3 separate regions of the Homo sapiens genome follow, and all the other regions are linked to region 1. The links come from fine-mapping of genetic effects on gene expression. A gene starts in region 1. Each other region holds a variant in brackets. All regions are shown on one strand. Distances are from middle to middle. Region 1 holds the start of LRRC75A (leucine rich repeat containing 75A). Region 2 holds the start of SNHG29 (small nucleolar RNA host gene 29). Region 3 overlaps LRRC75A (leucine rich repeat containing 75A).

Region 1 (10,450 bases):
GAAGAGATGATCCTCCGTGGGTCCCTTGCACTCTCACACATCTTGCTGTGTATGCCAAGATTGCAAGACCCTGACCATTTTTAACCTGGGCCACTTCTCAGTGCTGTGTTTACAGCGAGCCGCCTTGAGGGATGAGGTACCATCTCCCTGGAGGAGGAAGAGCAGGCTTGCTTACTCCTCCCTGCATAAGCAGCTCCAGGCTCGGTGTTCCTCAGCTATGACGCTAACCAGCTGCCTGTGGAACATCCATCTGGGCCCCCCATATTGCCCCTGTGAGACTTGGAGGCAAATATGCTGATGCACATGCTTCTTGCTGTGCTCTGAGTAACAAAGTCCTATGTTTCTGACCACAGAGTGTCATGTCTTCTTTTAGCATCCATGAATCAATGACAGGTTAATTTATTAGCTTATAAGTTGGAAAGAGTCATCAGCGTGTACATGGCAAGTAAAGCCATGATTACAAATAATATTGCCCAGCAGAGCATGTTGGTAATGTGCCTGTAGTGCCAGAAACGCGGGTGGCTGAAACAGGAGTGTCCTTGAGCCCAGGAGTTCAAGGCTGCAGTGAGCTATGATTGCACCACTGCACTCCAGCCTGGGTGACCCTGTCTCAAATAAGTTTATTTGAGACTCTGTCTCAAATAAATGAATAAATAAATAGCATTGCCTAGGAAGAGATACGGGGTAGTACCCTGCATAAAGGCAACAAGTAAAGAATGAGGGTAAGAAAAGGAGCTCCCAGGAGAACTCAAGAAAGAAACCTAGAGGAGAGTAGTTCCTTGCAAGCCAAGGGAGTAGAGTTTCAATCAAAAGAGTAGGCAACAGGATCAGATGCTGCTTAAAAGTCAAGTAAGATGAAGACTGAATGTGGCCACTGAGTGTAGCAACTAGGTCACTTCTTTAGCTGTTGCTAAAGGCTAAAGGCAAGAGGCATTTTAGTGACATGGTGTGGCCAGAAGCCAAGCTGAAGTGGGTGAGGAACGAATGGAGGTAAAGAAAGAATGACAATAGGCTGGGCGTGGTGACTGATACCTGTAATTCCAGCACTTTGGGGGGCCAAGGCCTGAGGATTGCTTGAGGCCAGGAGTTCAAGACCAGCCTGGGCAACATGGTAAAACCGTCTCTACAAAAAAAAATTACAAAAATTAGCTAGGCATGGTGGCGTGCACCTGTGATCCTGGCTACTTGGGAGGCTGAAGTGGGAAGCTAGCTTGAGCCCAGGAGATCAAGTTTGCAGTGAACCGTGATGGTGCCACTGCACTTCAGCCTGGGCTACAGGGTGAGACCCTGTCTCAAAAAAAAAGAAGGGAGGGAGGAAGACAGAGAGAGAAAAGGAAAGAAGGGAGGAAGGAAGGAAGGAGGGAGGGAAGGGAGGGAGGGAGGGAGGGAAACTAAAAATCTTAGCTGAAAAGAAAGGATAAAGTTGGGGCACTGGTGACTGAAGCAGGCAGATGCAAATGAAATTTTTCAATAGATGGAAGAGAGGTGAGTAGAGCATATCTTGAGGAGAACAAGCCAGAAAACAGGAAAAGTCAGGGTAAAAAAATCAAGAGCAAGGGGAGGAGGATAGAATCAGGTCTCTGAAAAAGAGGAGAGGGCTAACATTCAGATCCCAAGTGAGGGGCTGGTCTGGCCCCTCTCCCATTGAAATGGCATTTGCCCCAACCACACACCCTCAAGCAGGCCAACAGGCTATCTAGGTTGTGTGGTCTGTCTCCAGGTGGGTAGAGCTCACTGTCTGTAGGGAGGGGCCTGGTCAATAGGTGTCCTTGGTGGCCACTTTGTCTGGTGGTCCTGCAGACCAGAGATGAGAGACACATAAGTATTTTTCAAGCTGGGTTCTCTGGAGATGCCAGCAGGTGTGTGCTCCTATGCAAAGGGTTCAGGTAAGTTTGGAAAGTGCTGTCCAAGCCCTGCAAAGCCAGCTTGTAGGAAGACTGAGTGTTCTCTGCTGGCAGAGATGGACATTTGGGAGTGGGGTGGCCAAAGGGAAGAGAATGCCTGCAGGAGAGATGCCAGGACTCATACTCAAGGTACTCAGGGATAACGGAGAAGACACCTATGGAAAACCCTGTGATCACAGAGCAGGAAGAGGAACTCATTTGCAGAACATCTCTACTCTGCTTGAAGTTTATATATTGACAAAGATTCTTTGCTTGGCCAAACTTTAGTCAGGCTCCCAAACCTTCTCCTAGACCCTCTTTGCACTTCCATGTAAAATCCAGTTTTAGCAAAGACCCTGTTAAGACAGTTTAGCAAGAACCCTCCATCTTGTATATCTGATCATCTTCAATATCTGATTAGGTTTATCATCCCCCACCCTCCCCCAGGTGATCTCTGGTCACCTGGCCTGTCTAAAGCAAGAATTCTGTTAGGTTGGTGTTGTGAGTGCCACAAAGTCAGAAATAATCAGGTTCATGCACATGTGTGTCTTTCTACAACGTCAGGCTTTTATTGATGCTATTTCAGTCATAAAAGCCACAAGCCACATGGGGTTCTCAAGGAGGCAAATTCTCCTTAGTTTTCCCCATTCACTTGGTAATAAGAGCTGTGGGCATACAGGCTCAAGTCACTCCACAAGTCAGTCAATACTGCCAACCATACATGGTAGTATACTTAATCAATATATAAATGTTATAGATTACACATTCCACATCAAAGTACATTTAACATCAAGAGAAAAGGGGATAGGGAAGGAGCGGTTAACAATATAGTCCAAGGAGAGTGACTTGGACAAGGGGAGTCTCCTGGCCTGATCCAAACAGTCCTCAGTGTCTTGCAAGGAAGAGTCTTTGATGTGGGCAGAGTGTGGGCAAGATGGGGTCTATCCAGACGGTCATCTCCAGTTGCTGAAGTCCTGCTCTTTTTATGGCTACAGAATCCTCTGGTGAGGACTGATAGCAAAGAGTGTGCCTGTTTATGTCTTTATCTGGTGGGGTGTAGTCTTTATTGATTAGGCGAACATCTGGTTCCTGTTGGCATGAGGCTTTTTCAAATGTAAAATGGACCCTTTTTCTAAGATGGAGTTACTTATGTCAAGGGTGCTCCATACAACCTGTTTAGCCAGAATCCCCCTCAGCCCTGATGTTTCCCTTATTAAGTTTCTATCCGCTGACCCCCACCCTGCTCCTTAGCAACGAATTCCCACTTGCCCATGCTGTAATTGGAGTTGAGCTCAATCTCTCTCTCCCTGCAACTGCAAAATCTCATAGCAGAGGTCCCTACACCTATGGTAATGGTCCTGAATAAAGTCTTCCTTACGATGCTTTAACTCATGTCATTAAATAATTTTTTCCTTTAGCAGTGTCCACCGAGTTTACTCTCCCAATTCTTGGCAGTGTTATTATCCTAGCCTGACAGGAAGAATCAGGACTCAAGAAGCTGAAGACTCGCCTGATACTCAGTGCTCACTAAGTAGTGGGGCTCAGCTCCCTGTGATTTGGGATCCAGCCTCCTGCCCCTACAGCCCACGTGCCCTTACACCCTCAAGCAACACCCAGAGCTGGGGTCAGAGGCGAGCTTGCACAATTGCTTCTGCCCTGCGCTGGGACCAGGGCGGCCTGTGGTCTGCAACAGAGAAGCTCCCCCACCTGCCTTCGCCTTCACTCTGGCAAGCCCTGGCAACACCATGAGATCCCAGGGCTCTGGTCCCTTACAGACTGGGCCTGGCAGAGGCACGGGGAGGAAGGTGGGCCAGCAGGGTGTACCGCTGGGCCTACTCGCAGACGTGCGTTTGCTTTGTTGTACCAGGACTACCCCAGGGACCCTTCTCCAGGGCTGTGAGAGTGAGAACAAGAGAACACAGGAGTTCACACCTCTCCGGTCCAGATGCTTTGAGAGCATGATGGAAGCAACAGGCCCTCTCCATAGAAGGGCACGCACACAACCCATAAGCTCGCACAGTTTCCAGGTTTACGCACCAACCACACCACTACAGCGCCCTGCAAGCAGGCCAGGTCTCAAAGGAGCGTGCATGGGAATCACCCAACATGCTGGCTAAAAAGGCGGATCCCAGGCCCCACCGAGGAGATTATCATTCAGTAGGTCTCGGTGGAGGCCTTAGAGCCTGCGTTTTTAACCAGCGCCTCCGACGATTTGGGCGCTGAGGCTCAGCGGAACCCACCTTGAGAAACCCGACTCTGGGCCTAAGAGAGCCCCCCAACACACACACCCCCATGCTCCAAACTTTCCCCATCTCGCCCGACGCACCGGGCGCGCGGTGGTGGAAGCGTCGGGGAGCCCGGTGGGGACCGAGAGCGACGGCCCATGGGGCCTGCCTGTTCCCCTCGCCCCCGCGCCACGGCCCCGGGAAGCGCAGCACTGCCGCCCGCAGGAGGCGCGACTGCCGAGAGGACGCAGGCAGGGGGCGCCTGGTGGTGGTCCCCAGCCCGGAGCCGCGGGGCGGGAAGGAGCGGGAGCCCGAGAAGAGGGAGGCGCGCGACGCCGCGGAGCTCCGGCGCGGAGGCGGGGGGCGGGGCGGGCCGAGCCGGGCCGGGGCGGGGCCGGCGGGCGGGCCGGCGGCGAGCGCCCGGGGAGCGCGCCCGGGTAGCCAAGAGGGAGGAGCGCGGGGAGCGCCGACAGCCGCCCGCCCGCCCGCCCCCGCGACGCCCGCGCGCAACAGTTCCCCCAAAGTTGCAGCCCGGGAGGCGAGCGCGCACGGGCGGCCGAGGGGCGGGCGGTTGGCGGGGACGCGGCCTCGCGGCCCAGAGCGGAGAGTCCCGGCGGGCGGCGGCGGCATGGGCACCCGGCAGACCAAGGGCAGCCTGGCGGAGAGAGCCAGCCCCGGCGCCGCGCCGGGCCCCCGACGCGAACGGCCGGACTTCTGGGCGTCGCTGCTGCTGCGCGCCGGGGACAAGGCGGGGCGCGCGGGCGCGGGGATGCCCCCCTACCACCGGCGAGTCGGCATGGTCCAGGAGCTGCTGCGGATGGTGCGCCAGGGCCGGCGGGAGGAGGCGGGGACGCTGCTGCAGCACCTGCGCCAGGTGAGCGCGGGGAGGGGGCGCGGGGGGCGCGCCGGGCCAGGGGGCGTGCTGGGCCGGGGGGGGCGCCCCATCCCTAACCGAGGAAGCCGGGGGCACCGAGGGGCACCGCCCAGGGGCCCCTTCCGCGGGGATGGAGCCCTGTCTGGCAGCAGGTGCCTCGGCGCTTCCGCTGAATGTGGGGCCTCAGGGCAGGGCGGAGGAAGGCTGGCCGGGTGAGGCCCGCCGAAGGGGACCTGTTGGCATAATGTCCCCACTGCTCTCCTCCGCAGGCAGAGAAGGAGGCTGGTCTCCGGGGACAGTCGGTGGGCGGGGAAGCAGGGATGCCTGCCTGATCTGGGCCAGGGCTCTTTTCTTCCTGTCTGCCCACTGGCAGTCACTCCCGGCCGAGGGTCCTCAAGGAATGCGGTTATCAGTTGGACCTGGCTTGGCTTCCCGAGAGCGAGTCCAGGGGCACAGCCCTGGGGCCAATGAGATTCCAGTCCCTAGGTCCTTCACTCGCCTGGGAGGCATCCTGGATTGTAGTTCAAGGAGGAGACTGTTTCCTCTCCCCTGACTAACTTCAGCAGATCCTCAACCATGAGCCCCTGCGGAAAGCGGTAGAGACAGGGGAGCTGGATTTGGTGCCCTGTGTGACCACCTGGCCAGCAGCAACTTCAGGAGACTGCCAGGACTCTGTCCTTAGCCTGTGCCTGTCCCACTGGCTAGGGACAGATGTTGCGGAATTGGCCAGTTCCCTCTGCTTTGGGGCTGCCCTGAGGCTAATGCTATCACTCACCTCTCTGTGGCTTGTTTTCCTTTGTCAGTTTCTTTGGTGGGGAGAGGAGCATGGCCCATGCCATGGATTTTGTTGAGTATAAGACAGGCAGGGGAGTGCAAAGCTGCTCTCCTGCATCACCAAGCAGGTTGTCTTGGCCTGGCTTTGGTGGGTAGACAATCCAGGCCCCATATTCTTGCTAGACTGACCCCATTAGAGGTGGAGTCTACCGTGGATGGCAGAGGGAAAATCTCAGGTGACCTTTCTGGGGTTTTCCAGTCGCTGCTGAAAGAGGCTGTAGGAGCACCTTCTTGGGAGGAGCTTCCAAAATCTAATCAGACCCACATCCCTCTTGGGTTCTGCAGCACTCTTCCCCACCTTTGTATCTGGTGCGCTCTTACCCTAAAGTATGTGTCCCCAAGCTGTGCACTGCACAGGGAGAGGCAAGCAGAGACGAGGGGACTTGGGAAGATGTGGGACTTCTGCTTCTGCCTCTGTTTTCCCCAACAACTTCCAGAATGATGCCCGAGACGCTGCTGGATCCCCATGTGCCTTCTCTGAGTTCAGTCATCAAAGAAAGATGACATTATGCACCACTGAACTTTAGCAGTGTGTATTTCTTTGTCTTTTGAAAATTGGAAGCTGACATATGGCCTTTATAGTAACTCTTTCACTTTTAAACAGAATATTGGGTTTTCCAGACCATGGTATCCTATTTACACACCATACAGTAAGGTTTTCCTGATCACATGCTGTTTCCCCCACCCTGCAATGGGTGCTTTGGGGGATACAGAAGAACAGAGGGAGCTGGCAAGCACTTCTTGGAGGGTGCAAGACCAGAGCGAAGCTTGCATGATGGAGGGCCGCTTGGAGGCCCACGGGAGGAGACTGGACCCAAAGTGGGCAGATACTTTGGGCTCCCCAGTCCCTGTAGGGCTGAGTGTGATTCCACATCCTGGGGACACTGAGCTTCTCCCTGCCTTGAGGGAGAGTAGATAAGCCCCTGCAGCCCCACTGTGGGATCCTTGAAACAAGAAGCATTTCCTCAGACATCTGCACATGGGTCTTATTGGTGTCCTGGTACCCGCCTCAGCTGCAGGACTGGGAGGGCTGATGGGGGGGTGGGAGGGGGCTTATCAGACTTCCCCCTTTTCTGTGAAAGCAGCAGGTCCTCAGGCTCTGGGCTTCTGGGCTCCTGTTGGGCTCCCTTAACCCCTGGCTGGGGATGCAAGGGCCGTGGGCCTGGAGCTGCCCTGTGTGGCCTGGAACGGATGGAGCAGGACCCCTCCCGAAAGTGGTCATGGGCCTTGAGCAGTGTGGGAGTGGAGCACAGGAGTGTTCACTTGCCTATGACAGAGAGGTGGCTTTCTAGGACCCTGAGGCCATTTGGAGGAATGTCCAGCTGGATTTGTGCTGTGCACTGAAGTGGCTCTTTCTCCAAAATTGCATTTTCCTTTCCATTCCAGTTTCCTTCTCTAGTCTGGTGGTGGTGATGTTCAGAAAGGGAATGAGCAGCTAGTGAGAGCCTTGAGAACACACAAGCCTCACAGGGGTCAGACCAGCAAGAACCTCTTCCTCAGCAAGACAGCCAGTAAAGACAGGGGTCTGCAAAGCGTGGGGCACCCTGTTCTGCAGGAATGTCATGCAGGCCTCTGGGGTGGGAGTCAATGAGCAGGCACAGAACCAGGGAGGGGCAGCAGCGAGGACAGTAGCCCTCACCTCCATTCACACAGCATGTTCTCCTGCATTTGATAACTTGGGTTTGGCTGCTGGATTTGTGTATGCCCAGAGCCATATGGCTGGTGGGGACTCGGGAGCCTTTGTTCCTGTGCTTCTTAGCCTCTTTGAGTCCTTGATCTTTTTGAGGCTCTGAAAAAGCTACACACAATCTTCCCAGGCAAATGCACTGACTCACGCAATCTCACAGGCAATTTCGGAGGGTTCACAAAGCCCCTGAAACCCAGCTACAGACTCCAAGCTCAGAATCTCTGCTCCAGTCCAATACCACCCTTCTCCCTGCTGTGACTTGCTCCAGGCTGGGGATCTGGAAACAGGGACCTGACCCGGGTGCATGTGTGGCAGTTCACGGTGGGCTGAAGGATTGTGGCTGCTGGTGCCACTTCTTCTGAATGCCCCTCTTCAGCATCTAAGATTTGGAGGGCGTCTCTCCAGCTTGTCACTTGCTGGAGAGGTATCAGGAGGCCTCATTCAGCACAAATGACCCTGAGCTGTGGCCAGGGGTGCAGGCAGGATGCCAGGCAGCTGCCTTGAAGGAACAGAAAGTAATCCCCTTCCCTTTAAGATAAGTGTAATCTGAGAAGAGTCCAGGGCCAAGGATCAAGTAGGCAGCTCGCCTTCCGGTCCTCAGTCAGCTGTGACCTTGGGCCCAGCAGATAACCTCTCTGAGTTGTGTTTCTTTGTTTCCCAAAGAGGGATCTGGGGTACTGAGCACAGCAAATGCTACAAAGTGAATGAAATGGTGTTGGTGCTGCCATTCAAGACACATTCTCTTGGTGACTGTGAAACAGGAGAATCTGCCTTACTCACTTTGGGTCTGGCCCCAGTAGGGGCAGGGTTGTGGCATCCTTTCTCAGGCATGGCCCAAGAATTTTTTGGATTCCATCTACCTGGCCAGGGTTCAGTCTGGATCAAAAACTCACTGCACATTTAGAAGCATCTGGAGCGAATGCTCGTGGAGATAAAACAAGCCAGCTTTGGATGGGAGAGGCCATTCCTCTGCCCTTTCCTGGCCGCCATCCTTCCAGGCTTTCCCCTTCCCCAGATGTCCTTCCCCTTGGGCTCAGGCCTGCTGTCTTTAAGGAGCCCTGGAGAAGAAATAACCTTCCGCCATTGAGAGAGGGCAAGTGCCAGGCCACCTTGAGGGTGAGCTGTCATCTCTTCACCCCAGCAGTTTCCCTGAGTCCTCAAAATTTTAGACTGAGCTGTCGGCCTGCGTCATGGAGCAGCAGAAAAAGGCGTCTGTTTCCCTGGGATACACCCAGCTGAGGTAGCCCCTGTCTTCGTGTTCACCAGCACCCCAGCTTTCCCATGAGAAGAGGCTGATGGGGTTGGTTTACTCGAAGTGTGGCGCACACCTCTTAAGCAGGGCTGTTCCTATGTTAACTTGTTTGGGCCTCCCAGTGGTATGGCTAGGGCCTGGAATCCTGGTTCCTGCTGCTGTCTGGGGTGGTGAGGCTGGCTTCACTCTGCACCTGGGAACAGGAACCACATCAGCTAATGCCAACAAGAACCACTGAGGCCAGGCGAAATGCTCACACCTGTAATCCCAGTACTTTAGGAGGCTGAGGCAGGCAGATGACTTGAGCTCACCAGTTCAAGACCAGCCTGAGCAACATGGCTGTCTCTACAAATGCAAATACAAAAACTAGCCAAGTGTGGTAGTGTGCACCTGTAGTCCCAGCTACTTGGGAGACTGAGGTAGGAGGATGGCTTGAGCTTGGGAAGCAGAGGTTGCAGTGAGCCGAGATCAAGCCTCTGCACTCCAGCCTGGGCCACAGAGCCAGGACCTAAGAGTTTAACTCACCCCTCAAGTGGAGCTGAGCAATGGACAGACACCTGGAGACTCCCTGGAGATGTGGAGACTGGACAGGTCGTTACTACCTAGAAGCAGAAAGATGAGCATAATGACCTCAGAAGGTCACCTTTTTCCTTCCACCTCCACCTAAGAACACTTCTTTAGGCAAGCAGGTTGGAAGGCTACCAGACACCGAGCAGGGGGGCCCTACGCTGGGCCTGCTCTTCTTCCTCCACCTGGAATGCTTTTCATGTTTCCACTGAATGCACCTTACCTTTCCAGGGCCACCTTCCTGGGCATGTCAGCCGAAGCTCAGAGATCCATGTGGCTCTTAGTTCCTGCCACACTGGGAGGCATTCAATCCATGCAGAGTTTTTCCCTGATGTTCCTTTTGTTTGTCAGATAAGGTCAAGTGCTTCCTGAGGGCGGAGACCCACCACCACCACTGTTATCCACTGTATGGTATTGAAAACCTGTAGGCTCGTGGCATACCTTAGTGAGTCTGTGTGCCGTGAAGATGTGCGTACGCGTGTGTGTCTGCTGCTGTCGTCAGTGTGTCCTCAGAAAGCACTTGGATTCCCCAGCTACGGCTGTGCAACTGTGGGCTGATTTACCAGGCTTGTTAGTACTGTCATGAGACACAGCACGTTTGCTTTCCGTGTGGTTGGATTTCTGGGAGTGATGTCCACAGGGCTTGGCTGTTCCTGGCAGCCTGCCAGGCGGTGGTGTTCTTGGAGAGAGGAGTGGCATGGTGCCCAGGCTCTGTGGCACTACGGGATCCCATCCGGCAGGTGCAGTCTGGGGCCTCTGCCGAGGTGGCGGGAGGGGAGCGGAGCCTGATGGGAGAGTCTGGCCTCCACATTCCTGATCGGCTCTTGTGCTGAATCATGTTCATTTCCTTCACAAAGAGAAACCTTCCTTTTTAAAATCCGCCGCTCTCTGCCTGGGCTGGATCGAGGCTTTTCCAGTGATAAAGATGCAGAGGGATTCCTGTGTCAGAGCCTGCTTCATTGGTTTCCAAGGCTGCCAGGGACACTGGCTGGGGAAATAGCAGCCTCTGTAGTGGCTAAGCACGACCGCAGGGGCTGTAGCTGGGCCGGTTATTCTGACTTTAGGGTCTGGTGAGGCTGTGGGATGGGGTTGGGGGGTCCTTTTTTCTGGAACAAATGCCACCTCCTC
Region 2 (7,284 bases), 50 kb after region 1:
ACTAAAAATACAAAAAATTAGCCAGGCGTGGGGGCACACACCTGTAGTCCCAGCTACTCGGGAGGCTGAGGCAGGAGAATCGCTTGAACCCAGGAGGTGGAGATTGCAGTGAGCAGAAATGGCGCCACTGCACTCCAGCCTGGGTGACAGAACAAGACTGTCTCAAAAAAAAAAAAAAAAAAAAAAAAAAATGCAGAAAATGGCCAGGCGTGTTGGCTCATGCCTGTAATCCCAATGCTTTGGGAGGCCGAGATGGGTGGATTACCTGAGGTCAGGAGTTCCAGACCAGTCTGGCCAACATGGTGAAACCCCGTCTCTACTAAAAATACAAAAATTAGCCAGGCGTGGTGGCAGACGCCTGTAATCCCAGCTACTCAGGAAGCTGAGGCAGGAGAATCACTTGAGCCCGGGAGGCAGAGGGTGCAGTGAACCAAGATCGTGCCATTGTACTCCAGCCTGGGTGACAGAGCGAGACTGTCTCCAAAAAAAAAAAAAAATGTGGAAAATGAACATCTCACCACTGCACCTGGGCCTTGGAGCCAGCAAACAGATGGCGGGGGTGGGGTGGGGGGTGTGCAGGGAAGGGCACACTTGCCATCAGCTTGAACTGCCTGGGCTCTGTCCCAAGAACAAGCAGAAGCAAGGAGCAAGGCACTCAGCCTCCAGGAGTCAGCAGCTGCCACCAGGCTCAGAGCCCCTGAGCCCTGCCCTGCCTGCTGTCTTACAGGCTCCCCATAGGGAATCCTTCTCTGGTGGGGAAGATGGTCTTGAAAGAGGGGACTCAGAGATCCTTTGTGCCATTCATGGGGGCTGAGCTGCCACCCCAGGGTGGTAGAAGTGGGAAGCTGAGTCCAGGTGATGAATACAGCAGCAAATGTTTATTCCTCACTCGCCTACTATACAAGGCACCATTTTGCACTTATGAACTTCTTCCATATATCAGCCCAATGGTACTCTTAACTCAATTTTTCTGGTAAATAGGGGCAGCCACATACCTCAGGCTACGGCCAGCTGGGCCCTGACAGCTGAGACGTGCGGCAGTGTCAGGGGACTGAGGTCCCTGGTTGCTCCCACCTCTGCACTTGTGGCATCCGACATCCAAGTGTTTCGTAAAAGCAGTCCCTAGCGTCGGAGAGCCGAGCAGAGGCTGGCACTGCAGCTTCTGGGGGAAAGGCCTGCCCTATGTGCCTGAGCCTTGTTTGTCCTTTTTCCCTTCAGCCTCAAGGCTGTCCTGGCCGGAAGCCCCCCAGACAACACAGTGGACCTGTCGGGAATCCCACTGACCTCCCGAGACCTGGAGCGGGTGACCAGCTACCTACAGCGCTGTGGGGAGCAGGTAGACAGCGTGGAGCTGGGCTTCACAGGCCTCACGGACGACATGGTCCTGCAGCTGCTGCCAGCACTCAGCACCCTGCCCCGCCTCACCACACTGGCACTCAATGGCAACCGGTTGACCCGGGCCGTGCTGCGCGACCTCACTGACATCCTTAAGGATCCCAGCAAGTTCCCCAATGTCACGTGGATTGACCTGGGCAACAACGTGGACATCTTCTCCTTGCCCCAGCCCTTCCTGCTCAGCCTGCGCAAGCGCTCCCCAAAGCAGGGCCACCTACCCACCATCCTGGAGCTGGGTGAGGGCCCAGGCAGTGGGGAGGAGGTCCGGGAAGGGACAGTAGGCCAGGAGGACCCTGGAGGGGGCCCTGTGGCACCTGCCGAAGACCACCATGAGGGCAAGGAGACTGTAGCTGCAGCTCAGACGTGACATGGAAGTGAAGGGCCTCACCAGGGAGTCCTTGTTGGGTAGAATGGGCAAGGCAGGCAGGGGAGGGCGCTTCTCCTATCAGGTGGGTTAAGGATATTGCCAAAAATTGGCCTGGGCCACCCACCTACAGAAAGGCAAACCATATCATCTGGGGAAGGGGATTTGTGTTAAAACTTCCCGTTGGTCCTCTGCATCTGCCCCCTATCCCATTATCTGCCATTTGGTTCTTAAGTCATCCCAGGCCCCAGAGAACCCTCTCAGCTCAGCTCATGGCCTTCCCCAAAGACTTGTGGAAATGGGCACATGGCTGGAGGTACTGTAAGCCTGAGCCATTGTGAACACCAAGAGCTTTCCCCCAGAAAAAGAATACAGTAGGGCCCCTACATGTACTGCATTACATTTTTCATTTAGGGGAACAAGCTCCAACCAGAGGAATGTGTCCCCACTCAAGGAAGGTGGGAATCTTTAGCAAAATTCCTGTAACTCCTGGTTGCCCGAGACCCCAGTTCCATCTATGCTAGGGGTGGACTGAACGTGGCCTACCTCCTTATGGAGACCCAGCCCTATTTCTGAGGCCCACCTTGATTCTAGGCATCTGCCCATAGGACCAGCTATCGCTATATCCTTTGACAGAGCAGCCTACGATGCCATGTGGTAGTGCTCAGGACAGACATGGTGCCCATGCATACAGGCATAAAGTCCTGTTCAGAAATCCCCTATCCACCTTCCCTACCCACTGCTGGCTGAAAAACTACCAGACTTCTATGTGGGCTCTGATGTCCTTAGCATGCAGGGTAAGTGACAAACCTGGCTTCCTTCTTGTCACTTGCCAGTATGACTTCACTGACCTAGACAGGCCGTAAGAACTCTTTCCCCATAACTCTTAAGTAATCCACCAACACATTCCAGAAAACCGACTGCAGAAGGTGGGCTTTAAAACCTTAAAAACCTAGGACAATGAAGGAGTCCAATCCCTTGGCAGATCCAACAAGATGGCTGGGGAGAGGGAGAAACAAACTGGAGGCTCCCAAAGGAACCTAACTTAGCAAAGGTTCTCATCTTATACCCTCCCCTTACCCAAATACTGTCCTACTGAAAGGGCCCTACCAGTTAAGGGATCTCTTCTAAATAACAGGCAACCCCTAGAT[C/A]CAAGTAGTTCAGTCCAGGAAGACTGGGAGCCAATCACTCTTGAACCTTGTGGGCAAACAGTATGGGGGAGGACCCTCTTGACAGGCCTTGGTAGGCAAGATTCCAACACAGGAAGACAGCAAGATGGGGCCTAGAGTATGGGGCCCTACATGCTGTTAAGGTTGTGGTTAGGAATGGTGCAATGCTGCAGGAGCTGGAACAAAGCTACACCAAGGAACAGAGCACAGAGCAGCAGGGGCCGAAATTGAGGAGGCCTTAAATGCTTTGAGCTTTTGCCTTCAGTCTAAAGCTGTAGAATAGGGGGTTAAGAGCTTAGGCTGACCACAGGGAAGTTTACAAGCTAGAGCGAATATCTGGACTGCTAATATCTGACAACAGTAGGCGAAATTTACTTTTTCTTCAAATACACATTTTCAAGAATTGACACCCAAGACCATCCTTTATTGTAGTATTAGTTCATGGTAACTGCATGAAAAAACATTTCAGGAGGAATTTACAATTTCCAGCTTAAAGAACTTTGCCCACCAACATAACCAATTTATGAAAGTCAATTCATTAAAAGGTATAGAACCTCTTGTTGGGCATGATGGCAAGGGACAAAGCTACAACTTGGCCTGTGCCTTTGGAAGCTGAGGCAGGAGGACCATCTGAGCCCAGGAGCCTGAGACCAGCCTGGGCAACATAGAGAATCCGTCTCAACAAAAAAAAAATTTTAGCCAGGTGTGCTGTGAGCTGTAGTCCCAGCTACAAGGTGGGAGGATTGCTTAGGCCTGGGTGATTGAGGATGCAATGAGCTGTGATTGTGCCACCACACTCCAGCCTGGGCAATACAGCAAGACTGTCTCAAAAAAAAAAAAAAAAACCCAAAAAAACTCAAGAATGTAATGAATGATACCCAATGTGCCTTTTCTAGAAAAAGTTGCCAAATATATCTCTTGGATCTGCTGAGCATGTCCTCTGATACATAAGGCAAGCATGTTTCTACACCCAGTGTTGATGCCAGTTAGTTTTCAGAATCCAAACTGATGGCAGCTACTGGTCCTTGGGACTGACATCCTCTGGGAATATAACCTGCAAAGAAACTACATTTCAATCTCACTTTCTGCACCAACTGACAGTCAATCACAGGGTAAGAGATATCTTCAGAAAACCATAGGTTCACCACTACACAATCTGCCGGTAATTCCAGCTATTTTGGGTGATTTCATCATTTGATATCTTTTTTTTTTGAAGCGAGTTTTAACAAGATCAGCTGTTTATTCATTCCACTATGGGGTTGAAGGGATCATTGGCCAGCTCAAGGCTTACCTTCTCTTGGGCTGAGATGCTGCTGCCAGCTCTAAAACAGCACTCTGTTCTCAAAACCTGGGGGAATGGAGAAGGCGCATACACCTTAGAGACTGCAGATGCAGAGCAGGACAGGCATTTCTGATGACAGTCAATTAATGACTTTACAAATTTAAGTCCATCCTAACAAAAGCCCCTTAAGACCTAATTAGAGGTAATTTTTCTAAGTTTTTGTAAATTATTGAGGACTACAAATCTTAATTAGCTTCTCAGTAGGTTGTAATTTTTTTTTTTTTTTTGAGATGGAGTCTCGCTGTTGCCCAGGCTGGAGTGCAGTGGCACGATTTCGACTCACTACAACCTCCGCCTCCCGGGTTCAAGCGATTCTCCTGGCTCAGCCCCCAAAGTAGCTGGGATTACAAGTACACGCCACCACACCCGGCTAATTTTTGTATTTTTGGTAGAGATGGGGTTTCACCATGTCGGCCAGCCAGGCTGGTCTTGAACTCCTGACCTCAGGTGATCCACCCACCTTAGCCTCCCAAAGTGCTGGGATTACAGGCCACTGTGCCCAGCCTCAGGGGAGTTGTAATCTCCATTTCAGTCATATCAATTTAAACTTCACAAAGCTAAGATTACTTTTCCTTTTCACATCTGAGGAAAACTACATCTCAGCAGACAGGTAATTTGCCCGAGACTAAACAGCCAAGAGGTAAATAGAGTAGCCCCTCTTTCTAGGTAATCCACCCTGGCTCCACTGCCACCGGAAACTAAAATCAGTATCTCTGGGATAGGCTACACTGTTACAAGGTATTAGGTTAACCAAATCCAATTGCCAATATTCGACCTGACAGCTAGGCGTGGTCAGCCACTAGCCTCCCCATAGAGCAAGGCTTACCTCATGGCAGGCTCCTGGCTCCAATACTCAGCTGCCAAACATGATGCTGATTCTTCACGAATTTGCAACCTAGGTGAATATAGCAATTAGGTCACCGTTCAAACAAGTTTACTCCTGGGAACCAGCAAGTGGTGAAGACTTGACTGCAATCAGACAGGAGTAGTCTTCGTCAGTTATCGCTTCTGACGGCACTTCCTATTAGTGATTTCATCAGAGCAGTCAAGCACCTCACAACCCTCCAGTACTGTTCCAACCGCAGATCTAGACCCTACCTGAAACTTAAGCTAACCCTGCTACTGGAGACATTTCTTAACGAAGGAGTTTGTTTCTGCATTATCAGTTTGCTTTAAATGCAGTTCTAGGTTAGGACTGTGGCTGAAGCAGCCATCTCCAGTTTCTATTTAAGTTCCACCCTATGCAATGACATGATAACGTTACCCTAAAGTGTATAAAACACCTAAACGTAGAAAACTGTCAAAACGCCAATTTCCGTGCATTCAAGTGACAAAACTACGTTCCATGTTAAACCCTACACCAGAGAGCCTCTCACCTCGTGGCTACCCCGTCTTCAGCACTCTGCAGTGGGTACGCAATCTTAAAGAGGGAGTAAGGACAGGAATTCAGGGCAGGGCTCTGGCAGTTACGGTCAACTAAGTTGTAGAGGTTTCAGCGACTGCGGTCAGATAGACATTAGACGTCGTCAGTTATCGCTTCTGACGGCACTTCCTATTACAAGTATCATCAGGACAGTCGAATAAGTCTTCCAGTAATACTGTTACAATCTTACCGACGTACACCGCCCTCGGGGTACCCCAAACTGCAAGCCGACCCCAACTTACCCAGTTCTCTCGGGTTTGCACACCCCCACTGTGGGCCGGGGAACCGGGTCCCGGCCTTCGCAGACTCCAGGCTCTGGCAGATGTGGCCCTACCACAAAAGAGTGATCCATGAGCCTCAGCCACGGCAGCCGGATTCGGCCCCGCGCTGCCCTGCCAGGCTGTCCAATACCGGGCCGCAGCGCCCGCCGCGAAAGCCACGCGGGCGCAGGAGCCGGGGAGCCACGCCATCTCAACAGCTGCCCTCCGCCCTCTAGACAGGCTTCCCGGGAACATCTCCCCAGAGACCACAGAAGCTCGAGCTCTTTATTTGCTCTTGCCCCCCAGCTACTACTCCCAGATTCCTAGAGAGCCTACCTCCATAACAACGGGAATGAAAAGGTCACACCTTATGTGCGCCAGGCCCTTAAGGAGTCGGAATATCCCAATCCTCACAAAAGGAGGGGGACGCTGGCAAAGACTCATGGGAACTTTCCGCCAAGTAACGATTTAGACCGGCGCGCTACCCAGGACTCCCCCTCCTGTTGAGTCTATGGTCTCTTCCACAGCCCCGGGAATTCTGGGTCACAACACGCGCGGGGAGTTCCAGGGCGCCTGCGCGAGGGCTGGATCGCGCGTTTGGGCCCCACCTCCGCCACTCCTTAGCTGGGTGGTCTTGGGCCAATTACTCATTCTCTTTAAGCTTCCGATTGGTCCTCTAGTAAACGGAGACACCAGCGCCCCAGAAGATCACGTGAGATGACACACGTGAAAGCCTGTAGAGCTGTGGCACAAGGCAGCCATTCATCCTAGTAGCTCCTCCTGAATCTATTGAGCGTTGCCAAATACTCTCCCCACAGCTATTTCACCACATCCACGGGGCTTCTCAAACCCCTGCGCACTGGTCACCCTCATTACTCCTTTAGCACGACCTTTAGGGAACGAGCTGACGTCTTATCTAGATCCACGTCCATCCTCTGCTCGCCTCTGGGGTAAAGCTCTGCCCACCTCCTTTCCTCTCCTCATTCCTTGGGGCCTCCTCCACCTATGCCCCTGCCTCACCTTCCATGGAAAACTCTCTCTACTGTGGCTTTCCTTTCAGCCTATGAACATGCTCAGCTCTCTCCTTGAAAAAGAATCCATGCAACCACGTTTTGCACACACACGTTATACCAAGGGAAAGAAATTCATTTTGACTGCAAAAAACTGGGAAGACAATCATAAGACCTTTTGAGCTGGCCTCAGAAATAAGTGTAGGGTTTTTGTTGTTGTTGTTGTTGTTGCTCGTTTTTGTGTTTTTTTGAGACGGAATTTCGCTCCTGTTGCCCAGGCTGGACTGCAATGGCGCGATCTCCGCTCACCGCAACCTCTGC
Region 3 (10,450 bases), 37 kb after region 1:
AGGCCCCTTTCGTGCCCATGTGGCAAGCGAGGCTCTCTGGATGAGGCAGGGGTGGGAGGTCCCCAGGCTGGTGGTAGGAGCAGCCCCTCCATCCACCCCAGAGGGCTGACCAGGACATCCTGGTCAGAGCAATTTGCATCTGAGAAGTTCATGTCAGCCCACGTTATGGGTCTAGAGATTATAGGCAGAGGTGTCAAGACCGGAGAGCTCGTTCCAAAGGTAAATTGGATACTACACGGACCTCACTGAACATCCTTTAGTGAGGGGCTGTGCTGTAGTTTAAACAAAACCCAAACTCCTCATCTGGCTTTGCCTGAGTCTCTTGAGCTCCCCTCTCCCACTTGCCACCCTGCGAGCTCTGCTCTAGCACGTGGGCCTCCCTCCTCTGTTCCTGACACCTCCACACCCTCTCCTATCTTAGGGACGTCGCTGCTCCCTTTGACTGCTCCAGCCTCTTCTGTCTGAGTTGCCTTCTCCTGAGTTCAGACTGAGCCTACGGCCTCTGAGAGGCCTTCGTTGACAAGCCTGCCTAGTGTAGGCTCCTGATCAGCCTGTCTCGAGCCCCATTTATTTTTCCATTCGTTTCTCTGTTTTACTTACTGGTCTCTGAAATTACCTTGCTTATTTATTTGTTGGCTAATTTATTGTCTGTTTTCCCCACTAGAATATAAACTCTGAAGGGAAGGGTGTCTGTCTTGTTCATAATTCCAACCTGCACCAGGCAGGAAGCAGGCAACATATTCCATTGTGAAGTTTGAAGAGAGTTTAGTAAAGGGTTGAGGACAGGATAAAGGAAGTCAACAGGGGACATTGAGACATCCAAAGACAGCAGTAGTAGGAAGTTGTTTCACAGGAGGACAAGCTGTATTGCCAGAGGCAGGGTGAGAACACCTGGTCCAGAGCCACGCTGCATTATCCATTGCCATATAGCAAACTACCCCAAAACTTAGTGGCTTAAAACAACAGACATTTATTGTTATAGTCTCTGTAGGTCAGGTTTGCAGGGGCCGCTTAAGTAGGTAGTTTAGCTTTGGGTCTCTCAAGACATTGGTCAGGGCTGCAGGTGTCAGAAGGCTTAACAGAAGTTGGCAGGTCTGCCAGTCTCGGTGGCTCACACCTTTGGGAGGCCACCGAGCACTTTGGGAGGCCGAGGCAGGTGGATCATCTGAGGTTGGAAGTTCGAGACCAGCCTGACCAACATGGAGAAACCCCATCTCTACTAAAAATACAAAATTAGCCGGGCGTGGTGGCGCATGCCTATAATCCCAGCTACTCGGGAGGCTGAGGCAGGAGAATCACTGGAACCCGGCAGGCGGAGGTTGCCGTGAGCTGAGATCGCGCCATTGCACTCCAGCCTGGGCAACAAGAGCGAAACTCCGTCTCAAAAAAAAAAAGAAGTTGGCAGGTCTACTTCCAAGGCGGCACACTCGCCCTGTAGCCTCTCCATGGGACTGCTTGAGTGTCCTCACATCATGGCAGCTGGCTTATCCCACAACAGGTGATAATATAGAAGCCATAATGCCTTTCTTTCTTTCCTTTCTTTTCTTTCTTTCTTTCTTTTGACAGAGTCTCGCTGTATCACCTAGGCTGGAGTGCAATGGCGCAATCTCGACTCGCTGCAACCTCTGCCTCCCGGGTTTAAGCGGTTCTCCTGCCTCAGCCTCCCAAGTAGCTTGGGATTACAGGCACCTGCCACCACAACTGGCTAATGTTTTGTATTTTTAGTAGAGACGGGGTTTCACCATGTTGGCCAGCCTGGTCTCAAACTCCTGACCTCAGGTGATCCACCCACCTTGGCCTTCCAAAGTGCTGGGATTACAGGTGTGAGCCACTATGCCTGGCCTTGCTTTTTTGTTGTTGTTGTTGTTTGTATTTGTTTGTTTGTTTGTTTTGAGACAGGGTCCCACTCTGATGCCCAGGCTGGAGTGCAGAGGTGTGATCATAACTTTCTGCAGCCTGGAACTACTAGGCTCAAGTGATCCTCCCACCTCACCTTCCCAAGTAGCTGGGACTGCAGGCAGGCACCACCATGCCTAGCTAATTTTTTGTTTTTTTTTTTCTTGTAGAGACGGGGCACTCACTATGTTGCCAAGGCTGGTCTCAAACTCCTGGCCTCAAGCAATCCCCCTCCCTTGGCCTCCCAAAGCACTAGGATTGCAGGTGTGAGCCCAACCCCCACAATACCTTTTAAGACCCAGTCTCAGAAGTCACAAACCATCATTTCCACCATTCTATTGGTTCTAATGATTCTGTTGCTCACTTAGACCAGCCCTGCTACAATGTGGAAGGACATTACACAGGGGCACAGATGCCAGGAGCCGAGAGCAGCAAGGCTGTCTTGGAGGCCGGCGGCTGCACATGCCGAAGTGGGGGAATCAGAATAAACTCCCCCATCCGTCTCTCCTCCTGCCCTCTGGTCTTGCTGCCATTGCTCCCATTAGCTGAACCCAAGTGGAAGCCAGGGGGAAGAGAGCCCAGTGATGCAGTCTCTAGAGCCCAGCCTTCTGAGCAGAGAAGGGCAGAGTGGACTGTGGGGCAAGAGGAAACAGAAAAGCCGGCACACAGTCTCTGCATCTGGAATGGTGTCCAGTGTAATGAGGGGGACAGTCAACATTTGATGAATGTATGAATGAATTTATGGATGAGGGAGGGATAGCCTTGAATGGAGGGCAGTGGAGGGCTGTGCTTGTCGGGGTCCTGGAGCAGTTACAGAGGTGCCTGGGGAGTGAAGATGGCAGATGGTATCACTGCCTGATGGCTGAGAGCCAGAGCAGTGTCGGGTGCTGGTACCCCTCCCAGGTCAGCCTGCAGGTCAGCACGTCATCTTTCCTGACAGATTAATGAGAAGCCCCTCAAACACGTTCTGCCCCAGGACCTGGGCAGCCTCACTGGGAAGGTCTGGAGAGGCTGCTGCCCTGACCTGCACTCATAGTCACTTGACTGTGCCACATCCCACTCCTGCCATCTTCAGGGATCGGGGGAGGACTGCAAAGCATTGATTCAGCACACAGCCATTGAGCCTTCTGGGCGGGTTAGGATTCTGCTGCACATAACAGAAGCCCAGGCGGGCTGGCTCCAGCAAGGAAGAAAATGTGTTCTACAGATATCGAGGTGTCTTGTGGTGCCCACGGGCAGCCAAGTTAGACCAAGGTGCTAGAACTATAGATAAGCACGGTGCAGAGGTCCCTCCTTCCCTCCTCGCTGCTCTACCCTGCCTCCCTCTGTGTTCCCTCTGCACAGACTGCTCTTCCCCCTGCCGCATGGTAGGGAATGTGGCTAGCTATGGCTCCCAGGTTACTTCTCAGGGTTCCAGCCACTGGAGGAGTTAGGGTATGTGTGTCTCAGTGTCAAGTCCAGCTTCCTCCTCCTCTTCCTCTTCCTCCTCCTCTTCTTTCTCCTTCTCCTCTTCTTCCTCTTCCTCCTCCTCTTCCTTCTTCTGCTCCTCTTCCTCCTCCTCCTCTTCCTCCTTTTCCTTCTTCTCTTCCTCCTCCTCTTCCTTCTCTTCCTCCTCCTCTTCCTTCTCTTCCTCCTCCTCTTCCTTCTTCTCCTCTTCCTCCTCCTCCTCTTCCTTCTCTTCCTCCTCCTCTTCCTCCTCCTCCTCTTCCTGATCCTCTTCCTTCTTCTCCTCCTTTCTCCTCTTCTTCCTCCTCTTCCTCCTCCTCTTCCTCCTCCTTCCTCCTCTTCCTCCTCCTACCCCTCCTCTTCCTCCTCCTCTCCCTCCTCTTCCTCCTCCTCCTACTACTGCTACTCCTCCTCCTCCCCCTCCCCTTCCTCCTCCTCCTCTCCCTCTTCCTCTTCCTCCTTCTCCTCCTCTCCCTCCCCCCGTTCCCCACCTTCTTACTGCTCCACTTCTGGGCCAGTGCTGCCTAGTCCTGTTCTCTGCAGGAGGGAGCCCTGGAGGGGTTCTTTGAAAAGTGGAAGAGTTGGGAAAAAATGAGACAGTCTCACTGAAGGCTTTTCTGGTTGTAAATGATAGAAACACTTTGAACTGACCTAAGCCAAAGACAGGATTTCTCACAAGGAGGGCAGCAGATAGCGGTTAGGAGCATCAGCCTCAGAGCTGGCTGACTTTAGATCCTGACTCCGTCTTACAAGCTGGGAGGCCTTGCCCATCTATTTAAGTTCTTTTTGCCTCAGTTCCCTCATTTGTAAAGCGGGGTTATTAATAATACCTGTCTCATAGGGTTGTAGTAAGGTATGGGACTATAGTTTGTAGGGCACTTAGGGAGGTCGAGGCAGGTGGACCACTTGAGGTCAGGATTTGAGACCAGCCTGACCAACATGGTGAAACCCCGTCTCTAATAGAAATACAAAAAAAATTAGCCGGGCATGGATGGCGGGTGCCTGTAGTCCCAGCTACTCGGGAGGCTGAAGCAAGAGAACCGCTTGAATCTGGGAGATGGAGGTTGCATTGAGCTGAGATTGCGCCACTGCACTCCAGCCGGGCGACAGAGCAAGACTCCGTCTAAAAAAAAAAATTGTAGGGCAGAACTGTGTGGTACTTTTCCCTCACTCATTATAAGGGTCATGGCTGACACTCCTATAACCAGACACAGGGTAACAAAAAAGCAGAACAAATGTGTTTAATCAAAATTTTACGCAACATGGGAGCTTTCAGAAATGAAGACGCTCAGGTGAGGCACGGTGGCTCACACCTGTAATACCAGCACTTTGGGAGGCCGAGGCAGGCGGATCGTCTGAGGTCAGGAGTTCAAGACCAACCTGGCCAACATAGTGAAACCCTGTCTCTACTAAAAATACAAAAATTAGCTGGGCGTGGTGGCACGCGCCTGTAATCCCAGCTACTCGGGAGGCTAAGCCAGGAGAATCACTTGAACCTGGGAGACGGAGGTTGCAATGAGCTGAGATGGTGCCACTGTACTCCAGCCTGAGGGCGGGGACAGAGCAAGACTCCGTCACTAAAAAAAAAAAAGAAAAGAAAAGAAAAGAAAAGAAATGAGGACCCTTAGCCCCAGCTACCTGGGAGGCTGATACAGGAGGATTACATGAGTCCAGGAATTCAATACCAGCAAGGCCAATATAGTGAGACCCCCATCTCTTTAAAAAAAGAAAGAAATGAAGACCCCAAACCCCAGGGAAAGAGGTTTTTTTGTTTTTTTGGTTTTTTGTTTGTTAGAATTTGTTTATTTTAATTATATTTATTTATTTATTTTAAAACGGAATTTTGCTCTTGTTGCCC[G/A]GGCTGGAGTGCAGTGGCGTGATCTCGGCCCACCTCAACCTCTGCCTCCTGGGTTCACGCGATTCTCCTGCCTCAGCCTTCCGAGCAGCTGGGATTACAGACATGCACCACCATGCCTGGCTAATTTTGTATTTTCAGTAGAGATGGGGTTTCTCCATGTTGGTCAGGCTGGTCTCAAACTCCCAACCTCAGGTGATCCGCCCCCCTCTGCCTCCCAAAGTGCTGGGATTACAGGCATGAGCCACCACGCCTGGCCTGTTTGTTTGTTTGTTTTTTGACAGAGTCTCACTCTGTTGCCCAGGCTGGAGTGCAATGACGTGATCTCGGCTCACTGGACCCTCCACCTCCTGGGTTCAAGCAACTCTCCTGCCTCAGCCTACCAAGTAGCTGGGACTACAGGTGCCCGCCACCATGCCTAGCTAATTTTTTGTATTTTTAGTAGAGATGGAGTTTCGCCGTGTTGGCCAGGCTAGTCTCGAACTCCTGACCTCAGGTGATCCACCCACCTCGGCCTCCCAAAGTGCTGGGATTACAGGCGTGAGCCACCACACTCAGCCAGCTATCTGTTTTTATACTCAGGCTTGGTAAAGAGTGCACAAGCTTGTAGAAATGCGATTGGACAAAGGGTGTGATCTAATGGTGATAGGCCGAGGGGACCCAGGAAGGCTATCTGCTCAGATTCTTCTTGGCCTCTCTCTGCAGTGTTCCTTCCTACCCCTCTGGAATGGTCTTCAAGACAGAAGGGAGAGAGTGACCTGCCTAGTTTTATGGCTTGCTTTGAGGGAGAGGGGTTCTGGTCTCTGTGACCTGCCTTGGGGAAGAAGAATTCTGGTTTCTCTGACTCACTCTGGGGGAGAAGAAGGGCCAGAGACAGGAGGGCAGCAGAAGGGCAGAAAAACTTTGCTTCTGAGGCCTTCCAATTTCCGTTAGTTCAAAGCTCTCTGCTGGCCCCGGCGCCATGCTTTGGAATTGTGTTCTGAGCCCCAAAATGTTCATGCAAACAGTGCTCAGAGGAGATGCCCAATGCATCGCAGCTGCTCAATACATGTTAGCTGTTGTCAGTTTAGTTCAGACAAGCAGAAGGGAACTCTCACTCCTGAGAGAACATCAGCTCACTTGTGCTCTCAAGGCAACTCTATGAGGTGTCCATATCTATTGTTCCTGTCTAGCCAGTGAGGAGACGCAGGCTCCTCAGTTCTCCCTGGTAGTGGCAGATACACTTCCATCCCGAGCCTGGCCCTGTGCGTGGCTGCCCCCTTGTGGCAATGGCAGTGCAGTGATGCCCCCTTGTCCTCTGTTCTCGTGTGTGTGTGTGTGCGTGTGCGTGTGTGCGTGTGCGTGTGTGCGTGTGTGCGTGTGTGTGTGTGTTTAGGAGTCCCACACCAGTCCCACTCTGGCGCCCAGGCCAGAGTTCAGTGGCGCGATCTCGGCTCACTGCAACCTCCACCTCCCGGGTTCAAGCGATTCTCCTGCCACAGCCTCCCAAGTAGCTGGGACTACAGGCACCCACGACTACGCCTGGCTAATTTTTGTATTTTTAGTAGAGATGGGGTTTCACCATATTGGACAGGCTGGTGTCGAACTCCTGACCTTGTGATCCGCCTGCCTCGGCCTCCCAAAGTGCTGGGATTACAGGCGTGAACTACCGCGCCCGGCCTCTATTCTCTTCTTTTAAGGCTCAGCTGCCCAGGCTGAGAGGGTGGACAGGGATTTTGGCCCCAGATTTTGGAAACCCTGGGAAGTGATTGAAGGAGGAGCTGCAGCTGAGGGGCTCAGTTCTAAGCTTTGGAGACTGGCTACATTCTGTCCTGGGGTGGTTCCAGGAGTGATGCTGGGCAGACCACCTGATCCCACCCATGGTCTTTGAACCAGTGCTTCTCCACCTCAGCTGCACTAGGGAATCACCTGGGGACCTTTTAAAAATCCCCGTGTGGCCAGGCAGGGTGGCTCACACCTGTAATCCCAGCACTTTAGGAGGCTGAGGCGGGCAGATCACGAGGTCAGGAGTTCGAGACCAGGCTGGCCAACATGGTGAAACCCCATCTCTATTAAGATACAAAAAATTAGCGGGGTGTGGTGGCAGGCGTCTGTAATCAGCTACTTGGGAGGCTGAAGCAGGAGAATCGTTTGAACCTGGGAGATGGAGGTTGCAGTGAGCCAAGACCGCGCCACTGCACTCCAGCCTGGGCAACAGAGTGAGACTCCATCTCAAACAAAAAGAAAAAAAAAAAAATCCCTGTGCCTGAGCCACCCACCCATCATTGGGGTGGCCCAGGCATCAGTGTTATTTTGTTGTTGTTTGGTTTGGTTTGGTTTTTTGAGACTAGGTCTCACCCTGTCTGGAGTGCAGAGGTGTGATCACGGCTCACTGCAGCCTTCACTTTCGGGGCTCAAGAGCCTCCTACCTCAGCCTCCCGGGTAGCTGGGACTGCAGGCACATGCCACCATGATGGGCTTTTTTTTTTTTTTTTTTTTTTTTTGAGAGCAAGTCTCACTATATTGCCCAGGGTAGTCTTGAACTCCTGGGGTCAAGTGATCCTCCTGCCTCAGCCTCCCAAAGTGCTGGGATTACAAGAGTGAGCCACAGCACCTGGCCCATCAGTGGACTTTAAAGCTCCCCTGAGATTCCAGGCCGGGCGCGGTGGCTAACGCCTGTAATGGGAGGCCGAGGCGGGCGGATCACAAGGTCAGGAGATCGAGACCATCCTCGCTAACACAGTGAGACCCCCCGTCTCTACTAAAAATGCAAAAAAATTAGCCGGGCATGTTGGCGGGCGCCTGTAGTCCCAGCTACTGGAGAGGCTGAGGCAGGAGAATGGCGTGAACCCGGGAGGCGGAGCTTGCAGTGAGCCAAGATCGCGCCACTACACTCCATCCTGGGCGACAGAGCGATACTCCGTCTCAAAAAAAAGAAAAAAAAGCTCCCCTGAGATTCCGGTATGAAAGATTCCAAGGTAAAGAAGCACAGCTCTAGATGGGCCATCTCCAGTGTCACCTCCTATTCTCTGTTTTATTTATTTATTATTATTATTATTTTTTTTTTTGAGATGGAGTCTCACTCTGTCACCCAGGCTGGAGTGCAGTGGTGCGATCTCGGCTCACTGTAACCTCCGCCTCCTGGGTTCAAACAATTCTCCTGCCTCAGCACTCCGGAGCAGCTGGGATCACAGGCGCCCGCCGTCACGCCCAGCTAATTTTTGTATTCTTAGTAGAGACAGGGTTTTGCCATGTTGGCCAGGCTGATCTCGAACTCCTGACCTCAGGTGATCCATCCACCTTGGCCTCCCAACGTGCTGGGATTAACAGGCGTGAGCCACCGTGCCTGGCCCCTATTCTCCCTTTGAGCTCTAAGGTCGGCTCCCACCATGGCCCCACTCCCTGAACTTGTGCTGGCCATGGCCTCCTTGTTGGAGACCCAGTGGCCTCTGGGTGGGGGTCTAACCCCATTAGTCACTCTTCTTGGTGTCCAGACTCCACTACTCCTGCTGCTCTGATGGAGTCTTCTCTGACTGCTGTGTGTCCACTGTTCTCTCTCCCTCCTGCTTAGCTCATTCTCTGGCCAGGGGTTTAATCTTACTGATGAATGTGTCCAGCCTGGACCTGTCTTGAGCCCCAACCCCATAAGTCCAGTGGCATCCACAGCTGGAGGTATTGTGAGCTCCTCAAACTTACCATGGCCCCACATGAGCAGGTCACCCCCCTCCTGCCTTCTCACCCACTTCTTGTCTTGAGCCCCTTGCCTTCTACTCATGTCCCAAGCCCAAAGCCTAGACCCTCCTCACCCTCCCTGCCCACACCTTCTCCATCCAGCATATCAGTCAGCTGTGTGGCCTCTGTCCCCTCAGCCCCTTCCAATAGCCTGGCCCTGAGTCATCCTCTCCACCTCCTGTCCACCCCTCTCTCCATCTCCCAGTCTGAGGAACATCCCCCTTGAGGGACTCCCCTGCAGCCCCCATGACCAGCTCCTCCTGCTTCACCCGCCTTGCTTCCCTCCACACAGTCATGTGGCCAGGTTCAGCAAGAAGCTAAGTCTAGGAACCAAAAGATGTCAGCTCCAGGGGTGGGGAATGAAGCCGTAAAGGCAGATGCTCACCTGCCCCCACATCTGCAACACACAAGAGTGACACACAGGAGTGACAGGTGTAACACACAGGTGTGATACAGGTGCAAGTGGCAGGTGATACAAGCTTATTCATCAGACAGCCAGGCACCAGGAAGCTGGGGGCAGGGGTGGGGATGGGCTGTGAACTGGAGCCCAGGGGCCTCCTCCAAATCCGTTCTGTTCAGTCTCGGGCCCTCCTTTGCTTCCTGGGTCCCTCCACAGATGCCTCTCTCCTTTGGACATTCAACTGCCATCTTCCCAACTCCTCTCTCTCTTGTCCCCCTTCCTCAGAGTCTCCTTCTCTTGCCTTCCCATCAGCCCCAAGCCCATCCCCAGCCCTCTGGGCCTCAGGCTCCCCCACTGCATAATGGGAATAACGAAAGTATCTACTGCCTTGGGGTGCTGTGGGAATTCCATAACCTTCTTGCGTGATGTCTGGTGTGCAGGGCTGACAGTGGCTTGAACCATGGAGGGACCAGATGTGATCAGGCCCCAGGCCTTCACCTGCCCTCATGTCAGTAACACACCCCACAGCCGCCACATCACCAAGCCCTGCCACAGACTGTTTCCTCCTCACTCAAGGATGCCTCACGTTTTCTTTCTCCATCTGAAATCACTAACCCATCTGCTCTTAAAAGCTGAGCTCAGCCTGGGCGCGGTGGCTCACACCTGTAATCCCAGCACTTTGGGAGGCCAAGGCGGGTGGATCACTTGAGGTCAGGAGTTCAAGACCAGCCTGACCAACATGGTGAAACCCCATCTCTACTAAAAATACAAAAACTAGCCAGGTGTGATGGCGGGTGCCTGTAATCCCAACTACTCGGGAGGCTGAGGCAGGAGAATCACTCGAACCCAGGTGGCGGAGGTTGCAGTGAGCCGAGATCGTGCCATTGCACTCCAGCCTGGGTGACAGAGCAAGACTGTCTCAAAAAATAAATTAAATTAAATTAAAATAAAGCTGAGCTCAAATCTGAGCCTGGGCAGAAGTCATCTTCCCTCCTTGCCCTGCCAGAATTCTCTGTGCTGGTGCCGCTATCACGGTATTCACTTAGAGTGTGCCTGGAGAGCTTGCTGTGGGTTGGGCTCTATTCAAAGCACTGCGCTAGTAGTGACTCATTTAATCCTCACAGAAACTCTTGTGAGGTCTG

Evidence for each region. PIP is the estimated chance that this variant, and not a neighbour inherited with it, causes the effect.
Region 2: its variant is fine-mapped to the expression of LRRC75A in transverse colon (CEDAR, PIP 0.95).
Region 3: its variant is fine-mapped to the expression of LRRC75A in whole blood (INTERVAL, PIP 0.96).

The regions. Positions count from the first base shown.
Region 1 is chr17:16,486,277-16,496,726 of GRCh38, reverse strand. LRRC75A (leucine rich repeat containing 75A) reads left to right here and starts at 4,534. Exons shown (of 4, transcript NM_001113567.3): 1 at 4,534-4,982. The coding sequence starts at 4,737. LOC124903936 (a long non-coding RNA gene) reads right to left here. Exons shown (of 3, transcript XR_007065641.1): 1 at 9,546-10,450; 2 at 9,281-9,357. RefSeq lists silencers at 4,282-4,621, 4,712-4,761, 4,872-4,931 and enhancers at 8,897-9,821, 9,822-10,450.
Region 2 is chr17:16,438,066-16,445,349 of GRCh38, reverse strand. LRRC75A (leucine rich repeat containing 75A) reads left to right here. Exons shown (of 4, transcript NM_001113567.3): 4 at 1,219-3,773. The coding sequence ends at 1,762. SNHG29 (small nucleolar RNA host gene 29) reads right to left here and starts at 6,363. Exons shown (of 4, transcript NR_045025.1): 1 at 6,290-6,363; 2 at 5,097-5,165; 3 at 4,220-4,276. It overlaps SNORD65 (small nucleolar RNA, C/D box 65), which reads right to left and starts at 4,124; the gene lies at 4,052-4,124. SNORD49B (small nucleolar RNA, C/D box 49B) reads right to left here and starts at 5,841; the gene lies at 5,794-5,841. It also overlaps SNORD49A. RefSeq lists enhancers at 1,463-1,542, 656-1,555, 5,158-6,059, 6,365-6,694, 6,755-6,944 and 2 more. The variant C/A (reference allele first, on the strand shown) is at 2,911.
Region 3 is chr17:16,449,416-16,459,865 of GRCh38, reverse strand. The region is part of intron 2 of LRRC75A (leucine rich repeat containing 75A); the gene reads left to right. All of the region lies in intron 3 of SNHG29 (small nucleolar RNA host gene 29), which reads right to left. Among named protein-coding and RNA genes, the nearest start is that of SNORD65, 13 kb to the right of the region's middle. RefSeq lists enhancers at 2,484-2,983, 2,984-3,485, 10,206-10,450. The variant G/A (reference allele first, on the strand shown) is at 5,201.